3 linked regions of the Homo sapiens genome follow. The protein of the gene in region 3 purifies or fractionates together with the protein of the main gene of each other region. This does not show direct contact. Each region holds a gene or a part of one and is shown on either strand. Other genes may lie near its edges.

Region 1 (3,825 bases), on a different chromosome or scaffold from region 3:
GTAAGAATATTGCCCCTTCTTTCCGGAAAGCTCTAATAAACCCCATCACCTCAAGACAAGACCACCTGAAGAACAAACATTAGCCATTTCTCTAATATAATAGCATCCCACTTCATTAAGTTGAATTAATGTTTGAGAAACTTTCAACAGAAATTGCAGCCAAGAGTGCTTTCCTTAACAAAATTGATCTCCTTCTCCTTGCCCGTAGCACCTACTATTTCACCACCTGACTATGTAGCATTCTGTATTATTATTTGTATGGCCTGGCTCCTCATCAAGTTTATAACCATATTGCCCACAGAAGGGGACTCAAGAATCAAACTCAGGGCGTTGTGGTGCCCGTTTGTAGTCCCAGCTATTCTGTGAGGCGGAGGTGGGAGGATTGCTTGGGCCCACGAGTCCCAGATAATCTGGGCAACATAGCGAGACCCCATCTCAAAAAAAGAATCTAACTGAATGTGCTGAGCTCCTGCTAGACCATCTAAAGCTGCCTGTGGGCTGGGCGCGGTGGCTCGCACCTGTAGTCCCAGCTACTGGGGAGGCTGAGGCAGGAGAATCGCTTGAACCCGGGAGGTGGAGGTTGCAGTGAGCCCAGATCGGGCCACCGCACTCCAGCCTGGGTGACAGAGCGAGACTGTCTCAATAATAATAATAGTAATAATCATGCTGCCTGTGTCCCCTGATGAGACAGCACTGGCCGCAGGTGGCCGCTAACCTCTCGAAATAGGGATGGCCCGAATTGAGACATATGCAAGTCAACACTACACCGGGTTTCAGAAACACATACGATTTTCAAAAGAATTAAAATATCGCATTTAGTTTTTCTATTGATTGCATGTTGAAATCTTACTTTGGATATATTGGATTAAATAAAGTATATCATTAAAATTTTTAAGCTTATGTGCCTATGAGAAACTTCCAAATTACACAGTTGGATGGCGTTATATTTCTCTTGGACAGCAGTGGTCTGAAAGATGACAAAAATCACGATACGTTTGAATCACGCCATGTCTTTAGGGAAAAGAAGAAAGAAGAGTTTCCTTTCGTATCGCTTAGGGGTTCCTCGCAAGAACCATCTGACAGAGAAAAGCCCTGGCTCCCGCCCCAGTGGCTTCTAATTCTGGTCCCCGCGCCCAGAAAGCCGGGAACGGGCAAGCCTGGAAAGGCGTTTTGAAAGGAAACAGGATCCCCCGAGTATAGGATGCGTTTCTGCCTCACAAAAGTCCCTTGGGGGTGGGGGGACGGCAGCGGCTGAGGCGCAGGAAAGAGGAGAGCACACGGGGAGTGGCCCTTGGAACCAGGCGCGCAAAACCTCAGCCCCTAGGCTCCATTTCCAGGTTCGCGGGTGACCTCCCCAAGATGGCCGCCGCCTGGGGGCGGGCCTCCACGCTGCACGGGTGTTGATTGGGTGAGACGACTCAATGATGAGCAATGATTGGTTCACACGGCGCAAGCTGGGCGGAACCGGAAGATGGTGTGAGCCACGGGCTGCCGGGGGCCTGGGGCTCGGCGTCGGTCCCCGGGGGATGTGGAGAGCTGGCAGCATGTCGGCCGAGCTGGGAGTCGGGTGCGCATTGCGGGCGGTGAACGAGCGCGTGCAGCAGGCTGTGGCGCGGCGGCCGCGGGTGAGGAAGGAGGCTGCGTGGGGACGGTGGGCGGCCGCCTTGAGAAGAGGGACACCTGCGTGGGAATGGGTCGTCACGGTGACGCAGAGGGGTCTCCCAGAGAGGCGGGACTGGTCGGCCGCCTAGGGCCACCGAAAGGCTAGCGAAGGGTTTCCCCAGCCTCCTTACCTTGAGTCTGTTAGGTTTTCTGGAGATTGGCTTCGTTGGAGCAGAGGGTACCGCTACCTCGGGAAAATGACTTAGTGCCTAGGTGTCGTGGCCACTTGCGCACCGCGTCGTTTCGGGGTCGATAGCCTTGGCGGATGCGAGGGGGGCCAGGCCTGTGCCCACGGATGGTAAGGGGAGACGGGGGTACAAGAGCACCCCGCGGAGGCCAGAGACGCCCGAGATCGCGTGTGTGGCAGCGTCTCACCTGCTAAGTGCCCAAGAAATGCCAGTGCCGCCCGGAGGCCGAGGTGAGGGTGGACTGGCCGGACTTCGCTGGCATCAGAGCGGCACTTGTTTATGGGGCAGGAGGGAGAAGTCCAATCCCAAGCCGGTTAAGGGGAGCTTTCGTCTTTTGTGTATATATATATTACATCCTCTTGGACTTTGATTAGACCAAGAATCAAAATCTGCCCACCTCAGTGCAAGTTTAAGCTGAATGGTGTGGAATGAGACGGACCTTAACAGAGAGGTCACAGGTTTCTCTGATCGAGCATTTATGCTGGCTGAAGACAAGACCTGTATTATAGTCTTTCTTTGACTATTCCTTAGACGTTACCTTGAACAAGTCAGGTAACTATTCCGGCCCTCAGCTCTGAAAGCTCTGAGATCTCTTCTGATGTTAATATTCTGTGATTCTCGGTGATTCTCCAAGAAAAATCTAGGGCTTCCCCTAATAAACATCACCTTGGAGGTTCTCTCAGGGAAACTCTCAGGCAGATGGGCTGCCTGTTCGGGTAACTCTCTGGAAAGCGTCAATCATCAGCATACTCCCAGTAGTCACGACTTGGACTCAAACGAGGCTGGTTACGCATCGCTGTGGAAGGAAGGAAGAGGAGACATTTTTCTAATTGATCTGACTCCGTCACGTCCTTGAGAACACTGTGATTCTGTGAAAACTTCAGGGGATGATGGATACAAGAAGACTAAATCGTGCAAGGATAAACGAATCTCTTCTCTTACTGTTTCTATGTGGATTGGGTGGCAGCAGAACGCATAGAACCCCCGCTCTTTGTATAGTGGTCGTGAGAGGATGTCACATAGGTCTGATCCTGAATCCAGAATTTTTTGTGTCGCAGCCTTAGTTCTGCCACTGGTTCTTTTCTTTCTTTTTTTTTTTTTTTTTGTTGTGTTGTTTTGTTTTGTTTTGTTTTGTTTGAGACAGAGTCTCGTTCTGTCGCCCAGGCTGGAGTGCAGTGGCACGATCTTGGCTCACCGCAACCTCCACCTCCCGGGTTCACGCAATTCTCCTGCCTCAGCCTCCTGAGTAGCTGGGATTACAGGCACACACCACCACACCTGGCTAATTTTTTGTGTATTTTTAGTAGAGACAGGGTTTCATTATGTTGGCCAGACTGTTGTTTTTTGTTTTATTTTGAGACGGAGTCTCACTCTGTCACCCAGGCTGGAGTGCAATGGCACAGCCTCAGCTCACTGCAACCTCCACCTCCCGGATTCAAGCAATTCTCCTGCCTTAGCTTCCCAAGTAGCTCGGATTACAGATGCCCACCACCACACCTGGCTAAGTTTTAGTATTTTAATAGAGATGGGGTTTCACCTTTTGGCCAGGCTGGTCTCGAACTCGTAACTTCAGGTGATCCACCCACCTCGGCCTCCCACAGTGCAGGGATTACAGGCGTGTGGCTCACCTGGCCATGCCACTGGTTCTTAATTCACAGATTGAACAATCAATTACTTAGTTACCTAAGTGGGCCACTTTTAGAGTAAATGGGGCAGTGTTATTATGGTGTAATGATACACCAGGACTAGAATGAGTCGCCAAACTGCTAACGTTTGGGTTTCAGAAGCCAGAAGTGACCTCTCTTTTACTTAGAGTGCAGCCTTCTATTAATGAAGTGATTCTTAAGCCTCCAACATTAGTATGTCTTAGAGTCATCTGGAGAGATTGTTAAAAAGGAAATTCTCCGCTGGGCACAGTGGCTCATGCCTGTAATCCCAGCACTTTGGGAGGCCGAAGTGGGCAGATCACCTGAGG
Region 2 (3,500 bases), on a different chromosome or scaffold from region 3:
ATAGGGATTTGTAATTTTGGGTAACTCAGTATCTAGTTTTATGCTATTATGATCATAGAAACACTATTGTCAGCTGACTCATGTAGCATATTGGGATTGTTTTTCCTTTCCAGTACAAACTTTTTGTTTTCTCTGAAGTTAATAATTGTTCCATCTTTTCTCTTGTTTAGTTTTCTATGTGCTTACTAATTTACCCCCAGACTCTTCCCAAGCTGTCTGAATCTCCTCTCAATACATGAAAGCAGATTGGACATTCTATCCCTTTTGGTCTTCTTGACGAAACTTCTTCCAGAACTTGCGACATGCTGTAGTCTGGATTTGTGAACCTCTTGGCCTACTGTGAAGCTGCTCTCCTGTGCTCTTTCACCATCAGCTGGGGCATCTGTCATCTCTCTCTCATGTTGGGACTCGTGTTTCTTGTCTTTCATATTTTCTTATTTCTTGGCTTTTTCTTTTTCTTTTTTTTTTTTTTTAAATCAGAGCACATATTCCCTGTACTATCTGGAAACAGAATATGGGAAGCAAAAATTTTAAAATGGCCCTTATACTTCATTGATAATTTGTTTGGCTGGGTTTGAAATTATTTTCCCACAGAATTTTGGAGGCTTTGCTCCATTGTCTTTTAGCATCCAGTGTTGCTGTTGGTAAATCTAATGTTATTCTGAGACTTAATCTTTTGACTACTTCTTCTCTCTGCCTTTGGAAGCTTTTTAGAATTTTCTCTTTGTCCCCAGTGTTTTGAAATTTCAGGTAATGTGTTTTAGTATGTGTTGGGCCACTCTGTGAGTCCTTTGAATCTGGAATCTCATCCTTCAGGTCTGGGATATTTCCTTGTTTTATTTCTTTGGCTTTCTTCCTCTCCATTTTTTTTCTCTGTTTTTTCTTTGTGGAACTCTATTATTATTCAGGTGTAGAATTTCTGGGTCTCATCCTCTAATTTTCTTTTCTCTCACATTTTTCATCTCTTACTCTTTTTGTTACATTTTCTTGGGAGACTTACTTAATTTTAATCTCTCAACCTGTTTTTAAAACTCCTGCTTTCCTATTTTTTACTTCCACAAGCTCTTTTTTCTTCTTATGGTGTTCTTTTTAAAAATAGTTTATCTCTGATAATTTTTTTTTAAGATCTCTTCTCTCTTCATAGTCTGTTGCCTCCAAGTTGCTTTTCTTCTGTTTGCTTTGCCCTTTTCTTTCTTCAGATGCTTCATAATCCTGTGTTGTCTTCGATATGAGTGAGATATTAAAAAGCTCTTGGAAGCTATGTGGATGGGGGTGAGGCTTGTCAGTTACAGGCTTTGCTCTAATGTGATTGATATGGTTTGGCTCTATGTCCCCACCCAAATCTCATCTTGAATTGTAATCCCCACGTGTTGAAGGAGGGACCTGGAGGGAGGTGATTGGATCATGGGGGCAGTTTTCCCCATGCTGTTCTCATGATAGTTAGTGGTTTCTCACGAGCTCTGATAGTTAAAAAGTGTTCAGCAGTTCCCCCACTTGTTCGCTTTCTCTCCTGCTGCCACATAAGATGTGCCTTGCTTCCCCTTCACCTTGCGCTGTGATTGTAAGTTTCCTGAGGCCTCCCCAGCCACAAGGAACTGTCAGTCAATTAGACCTCTTTTCTTTATAAATTACCCAGTCTCAGGTGGTTCTTTATAGCAGTGTGAAAATGGACTAATATAGAAAACTGGTACCAGGAGGGGGGCATTGCTACAAAGATACCTGAAAATGTGGAAACAACTTTGGAACTGGTTAATAGGCAGAGGTTGGAACAGTTTGGAGGGGTCAGAAGAAGACAGGAAGATGTCAGACAGTTTGGAACTTCTTAGAGAGTTGAATGGTTTTGACCAAAATGCTGATAGAGATATGGACAATGAAGTCCAGGCTGAGGTGGTCTCAGATGGAGATGAGGAACTTATTGGGAACTGGAGCAAAGGTCACTCTACTGTGCTTTAGCAGAGAGACTGGTGGCATTTTGTCCCTGTCCTAGAGATCTGCAGAACTTTGAACTTGAGAGGGGTGATTTAGGGTGTCTGACAGAAGAAACTTCTAAGCAACAAAGCATTCAAGATGGCTTTTTCTGAAAGCATATGGTCATATGCATTCACAGAGAGATGATGTGAAAGTGGGACTTATGTTTAAAAGGGAAGCAGAGCATAAAAGTTTGGACAATTTGCAGCCTGACCATGCAGTAGAAAAGAAAAACCCATTTTCTGGGGAGAAATTCAAGCCACAAGCTGCAGAAATTTGCATAAGTAATGAGAAGCCAAATGTTAATAGCCAAGACAATGGGGAGAATGTCTTGAGGGCATTTCAGAGATCTTTACAGTAGCCCCTCCCAGCATAGGCCCAGAGGCCTAAGAGGGAAAAATGGTTTCCTGGGCCCTGCTGTTCTGTGCAGCCTCGGGACATGGTGCCCTGTGTCCCAGGCACTCCAGCTCCAGCCATGGCTAAAAGGGGCCAAGGCACAGCTCTGGCCATTGCTTCAGAGGGTGCAAGCCCCAAGCATTGGAGGCTTCCCCATGGTGTTGGGCATGCAGGTGTGCAGAAAACAAGAGTTGAGGTTTGAAAACCTCGTCCGGCCGGGTGCGGTGGCTCACGCCTGTAATCCCAGCACTTTGGGAGGCCAAGGCGGGTGGATCACAAGGTCAGGAGATCGAGACCATCCTGGCTAACATGGTGAAACCCTGTCTGTATTAAAAATACAAAAAAAATTAGCCGGGTGTGGTGGCGTGCACCTGTGTCCCAGCTGCTGGGGAGGCTGAGGCAGGAGAATAGCGTGAACCCAGGAGGCAGAGCTTGCAGTGAGCCAAGATAGCACCACTGCACTCCAGTCTGGGTGACAGAGCAAGACTCCATTTCAAAAAAAAAAAAAAAAAAAAAGAGACAACCTCCTCCTACATTTCAGAGGCTATATGGAAACACCTGGATGTCCAGGCAGAAGTCTGCTGCAGGGGTGAAGCCCTCATGGAGATCCTCTACTAGGGCAATGCAGATGGGAAATATGGGGTTAGAGCCCCCACACAGAGTTCCCAATGGGGAGCCTAGTGGAACTGTGAGAAGAGGGCCACTGCCCTTCAGACCCCAGAATGGTAGATCCACCGACAGTTTGCACCATGTGCCTGGAAAAGCCACAGGCATTCAATGCCAGCCTGTAAAAGCAACCATGGGGCTGTACTCTGCAGAGCCACAGGGGCAGGGCTACCAAAGGCCTTGGGAGCCCACTTCTTACATCAGCATGCCCTGGATGTGAGACATGGAGTCAAAGATTATTTTGGAGCTTTAAGATTTAATGGCTGCCCTGCTGGATTTCAGGCTTGCGTGGGGCCTGTAGCCCCTCTGTTTTGGCCAATTTCTCCCTTTTGGAATGGGAGCATTTACCCAATGCTTGTAACACCAGTGTATCTTGAAAATAACTAATTGGTTTTTGATTTTACAGACTCATAGGCAGAAGGAACTTGCCTTTACTCAGATGAGACTTTGGCTTGTAATTTTGAGTTAAT
Region 3 (3,825 bases):
CTCATTAAATACATGTTGAATGAGTGGACTTCTTCTCTTGGCTGGGTGCGGTGGCTCACGCCTGTAATCCCAGCACTTTGGAAGGCTGAGGCGAGTGGATCACTTGAGGTCAGAAGTTTAAGACAGCCTGGTCAACATGGCGAAACCCTGGCTTTACTAAAAATACAAAAATTAGCCAGGCATGGTGGTGTGCACCTGTTATCCCAGCTGCTCGGGAGGCTGAAGCAGGAGAATCACTTGACTCCGGAGGAGGAGGTTTCAGTAAGCCAAGATTGTACGTACCACTGCTCTCCAACCTGAGCGACAGAGCAACTCCATCTCAAAAAAAAAAAAAGTGTCTTCTCTCATAGGCAAGTAACTTCAGTAGTAAAACGAGAAGAGAGCAGCACCAAAGTAGCTCTGCTGAGAGGTGAAGCCAGCTGGACTTCCTGGGTGGAGTGGGGACTTGGTGAACTTTTCTGTCTAGTTAGAGAATTGTAAATGCACCAATCAGCACACTGTAAAAATGCACCAATCAGCACTCTGTGTCCAGCTAAAGGATTGTAAACACACCAATCAGCACTCTGTAAAAATGCACCAATCAGCGCTCTGTGTCTAGGTAAAGGATTGTAAACGCACCAATCAGCACTCTGTTTCCAGCTAAAGGATTGTAAACACACCAATCAGCACTCTGTAAAAATGCACCAATCAGTGCTCTGTGTCTAGCTAAAGGATTGTAAACACACCAATCAGCACTCTGTGTCTAGCTAAAGGATTGTAAATGCACCAATCAGCACTGTGTCTAGCTAAAGGATTGTAAACGCACCAATCAGCACTCTGTAAAAACGCACCAATCAGCACTCTGTGTCTAGCTAAAGGATTGTAAATGCACAAATCAGCACTCTGTCAAATGGACCAATCAGCACTCCATAAAATGGACCAATCAGTGCTCTGTAAAATGGACCATTCAGCAGGATGTGGGCAGGGACAAATAAGGGAATAAAAGCTGGCACCCCCAACAGCAGCGGCAACCTACTCGGGTCCCCTTCCACGCTGTGGAAGCTTTGTTCTCTCGCTCTTCACAATAAATCTTGCTGCTGCTCACTCTTTGGGTTCGTGCCACCTTTAAGAGCTATAACACTCACCGAAAGCTCCACGGCTTCATTCTTGAAGTCAGCAAGACCAAGAACCCACTGGAAGGAACCAACTCCGGACACACTTCTAGGAGACTACTTCCAGTCAAATGGAATGCGCTTCCTCTGATCAAGAAATGAATCCTACCATAAGTTCAAACATATCTATACATACCTATACAGAGTCCCATCCTTTTAAATTGGAAGAACTTCATGAAATTTTAGAGCTAGTTCTAAAGTGTGCAGAGAGAGAACTAGAGATATACTAAGGTTAAAAGGTATTTGATTCCCACCCCTGCTTCATCCTCTCCCCAGCCTCATAATATATGCCTTCTGTGTATGAGGGTGGACTTAATGACTTTATCTTTTTTTAATTAAAAAATGGATCTAATACTAACCTACTTTCTCCAAGGATACAGTAGTTCTCTTGGTAATAAGATCTTAGATGTTCATGCTTTTGACAATCATGGTTAACTTGCAGCTGGAGAACACAGCAGCATGCCTGGGAACTGAACTACAATTCCCAGAGTGCATCTCTAGGAGGATTCTGGGAAGTGTGGCAGAAGCAGCAATGGTCCCTCCAGGGAACGGAAGCCGTTGAACGTGAACATTTGGAGTTTCCTCTTTTGTGCTGATTCCTGAGGACTAGGAAGGTGCCCCGAAAAGAATTCAGAGTGAGTACAGTGAAACAGAAACCTGCTCAGCTTCTAAGTGCAGGAAGGACTTCACAGGGAGGCATGATCAGAACTTGAAAAAAGGTCGTGGTCACAGCATTTTAACATTTTAGCTTAATCTCTTCCTTTTTGCAGAAACCAGGGATATAACCATAGTTTTGCCTCATAACTGTGGAGCTACATCAGTAACCACAGCTCATCATTTTCTGATACTTTTTTGGAGAGTCATTTAAAAATGGAACTTGCCAACCTCTCACATTGTGCCTTAATTTTTATTTTTTTTTAAAGGAGGGAAAATTATTTTTTAGAAAGCAAACTATAAAGCAGGTCAGTGAGACCTTCAAAGCTGTATTCCCGTGGTTCCTCAGTTTTCCATATTTCCCTGTCCCATGGAGGTCCACAGTCGTGGAGAAACGGACTCTAAACACAGGCGAAGTATCACTTGGTCGCCCAGGCTGGAGTGCAGTGACACGATCTCCACTCACTGCAAGCTCCGCCTCCTGGGTTCATGCCATTCTCCTGCCTCATACTCCCTAGTAGCTGGGACTACAGGCGCCCGCCACCACGCCCAGCCACTTTTTTTTGTATTTTTAACAGAGACGGGGTTTCACCGTGTTAGCCAGGATGGTCTCGATCTCCTGACCTCGTGATCCGCCCACCTCGGCCTCCCAAAGTGCTGGGATTACAGACGTGAGCCACCGCGCCCGGCCTAAAAAAAGGTCTCTTAAATACTAGGGAACCTGGCCTCTTCACGGTGGAAGTAACCACTAGATTCAAGATGGGCTTTTTTTGTTTTGTCTTGTTTTGTTTTGTTTTTTTGTTTTGAGACGGAGTCTCGCTCTGTCGCCCAGGCTGGAGTGCAGTGGCGCGATCTCGGCTCACTACAAGATGGGCTTTTTTGTCACGCTGTAGTACTTTATAATCTTTCTTCTGGAAAGATGAACAGGATAAGAAACGTGTGAATCATTTGTGTTGGGGAGTTCAAAGAAACTCTTAATGTTAAAGCACCTTGCCTCATCATTTAGTAGTTGGGTAAGACTGCTATTACCTTTCATCTCTATCAAACATTGTACTTTTAAAAACATAAATAGCTCTGTGACCATCAGCTCATGAGTCAGCAGCCATGATAATCTACAACTGGCTAAGGTTAATTTAGTAGCAGAAACTAGGCAAAACATCAGGCAGCAGTTCCCAAGGTCCAAGAAACTCACCAAATGAATTCCCTTTGGCTCATGGAATATGGTGAGGTGTTTTGGGGAACAGTGGCATGGAGGTAGCCTCATTAACCAGTTAGTCTCAGGAACTACTATTTTATTAGGCTTTTCTTTTGTCTTAAAAGGAATAAGTACACATGGCTAATTTTTTTTTCAGTACAGAAAAATGAACAAAATAAAAATTACAGGCACCTTTTTCAATATTTGTCTTCATCCCACTCCCCCAAATTAGTCACTCTTTAATAGTTTGGTATGTATACTTCTAGTCATTTGAAAAATATAAATAAGGCCGGGGGCAGTGGCTCTTGCCTGTAATCCCAGCACTTTGGGAGACCCAGGCAGGCAGATCACCTGAGAACAGGAGTTCGAGACCAGCCTGACCAACATGGAGAAACCCCATCTCTACTAAAAAAAATACAAAATTAGCTAGGCGTGGTGGCGTATGCCTGTAATCCCAACTACTCGAGAGGCTGAGGCAGGAGAATCGCTTGAACCCGGGAGGTGGAGGTTGCGGTGAGCCGAGATTGCGCCATTGCACTCCAGCCCGGGCAACAAGAGCGAAACTCCGTCTCAAAAAAAAATAGAAAGAAAAATATAATTAAATACATATAATTTATGTATATTGGTATGTCTGTGTCCTTTTTTTTATAAATAATTAGGTCATGTTAACCAACTGTTACCTGTTTTTTTCTCCAGCTTTATTAAGGTATAATATTAAGGTATTAAAGTATAATATATACTTTTTGACAAAAAAAGTATATATTTATAGTTTACAATGTGATGTTTTGATACAGGTATACATTGTGAAATGATTAAATCTAGCAA

The links.
Region 1: the proteins of NUDT13 (region 3) and PLPBP purify together in Homo sapiens (affinity purification with mass spectrometry; one large-scale study listed by BioGRID and IntAct). This does not show direct contact.
Region 2: the proteins of NUDT13 (region 3) and CPT2 purify together in Homo sapiens (affinity purification with mass spectrometry; one large-scale study listed by BioGRID and IntAct). This does not show direct contact.

What each region holds. Positions count from the first base shown.
Region 1 is NC_000008.11:37,761,134-37,764,958, forward strand, and holds the start of PLPBP (pyridoxal phosphate homeostasis protein), read left to right. Parts: upstream 1-1,526; coding exon 1,527-1,625; exon of another isoform or gene 1,626-1,680; intron 1,681-1,793; exon of another isoform or gene 1,794-2,131; intron 2,132-3,825. UniProt on the Homo sapiens protein: Pyridoxal 5'-phosphate (PLP)-binding protein, which may be involved in intracellular homeostatic regulation of pyridoxal 5'-phosphate (PLP), the active form of vitamin B6.
Region 2 is NC_000001.11:53,203,324-53,206,823, forward strand, and holds part of CPT2 (carnitine O-palmitoyltransferase 2, mitochondrial isoform 1 precursor), read left to right. Parts: intron 1-3,500. UniProt on the Homo sapiens protein: Involved in the intramitochondrial synthesis of acylcarnitines from accumulated acyl-CoA metabolites.
Region 3 is NC_000010.11:73,108,782-73,112,606, forward strand, and holds the start of NUDT13 (NAD(P)H pyrophosphatase NUDT13, mitochondrial), read left to right. Parts: upstream 1-1,673; 5' UTR 1,674-1,786; intron 1,787-3,825. UniProt on the Homo sapiens protein: NAD(P)H pyrophosphatase that hydrolyzes NADH into NMNH and AMP, and NADPH into NMNH and 2',5'-ADP. Has a marked preference for the reduced pyridine nucleotides.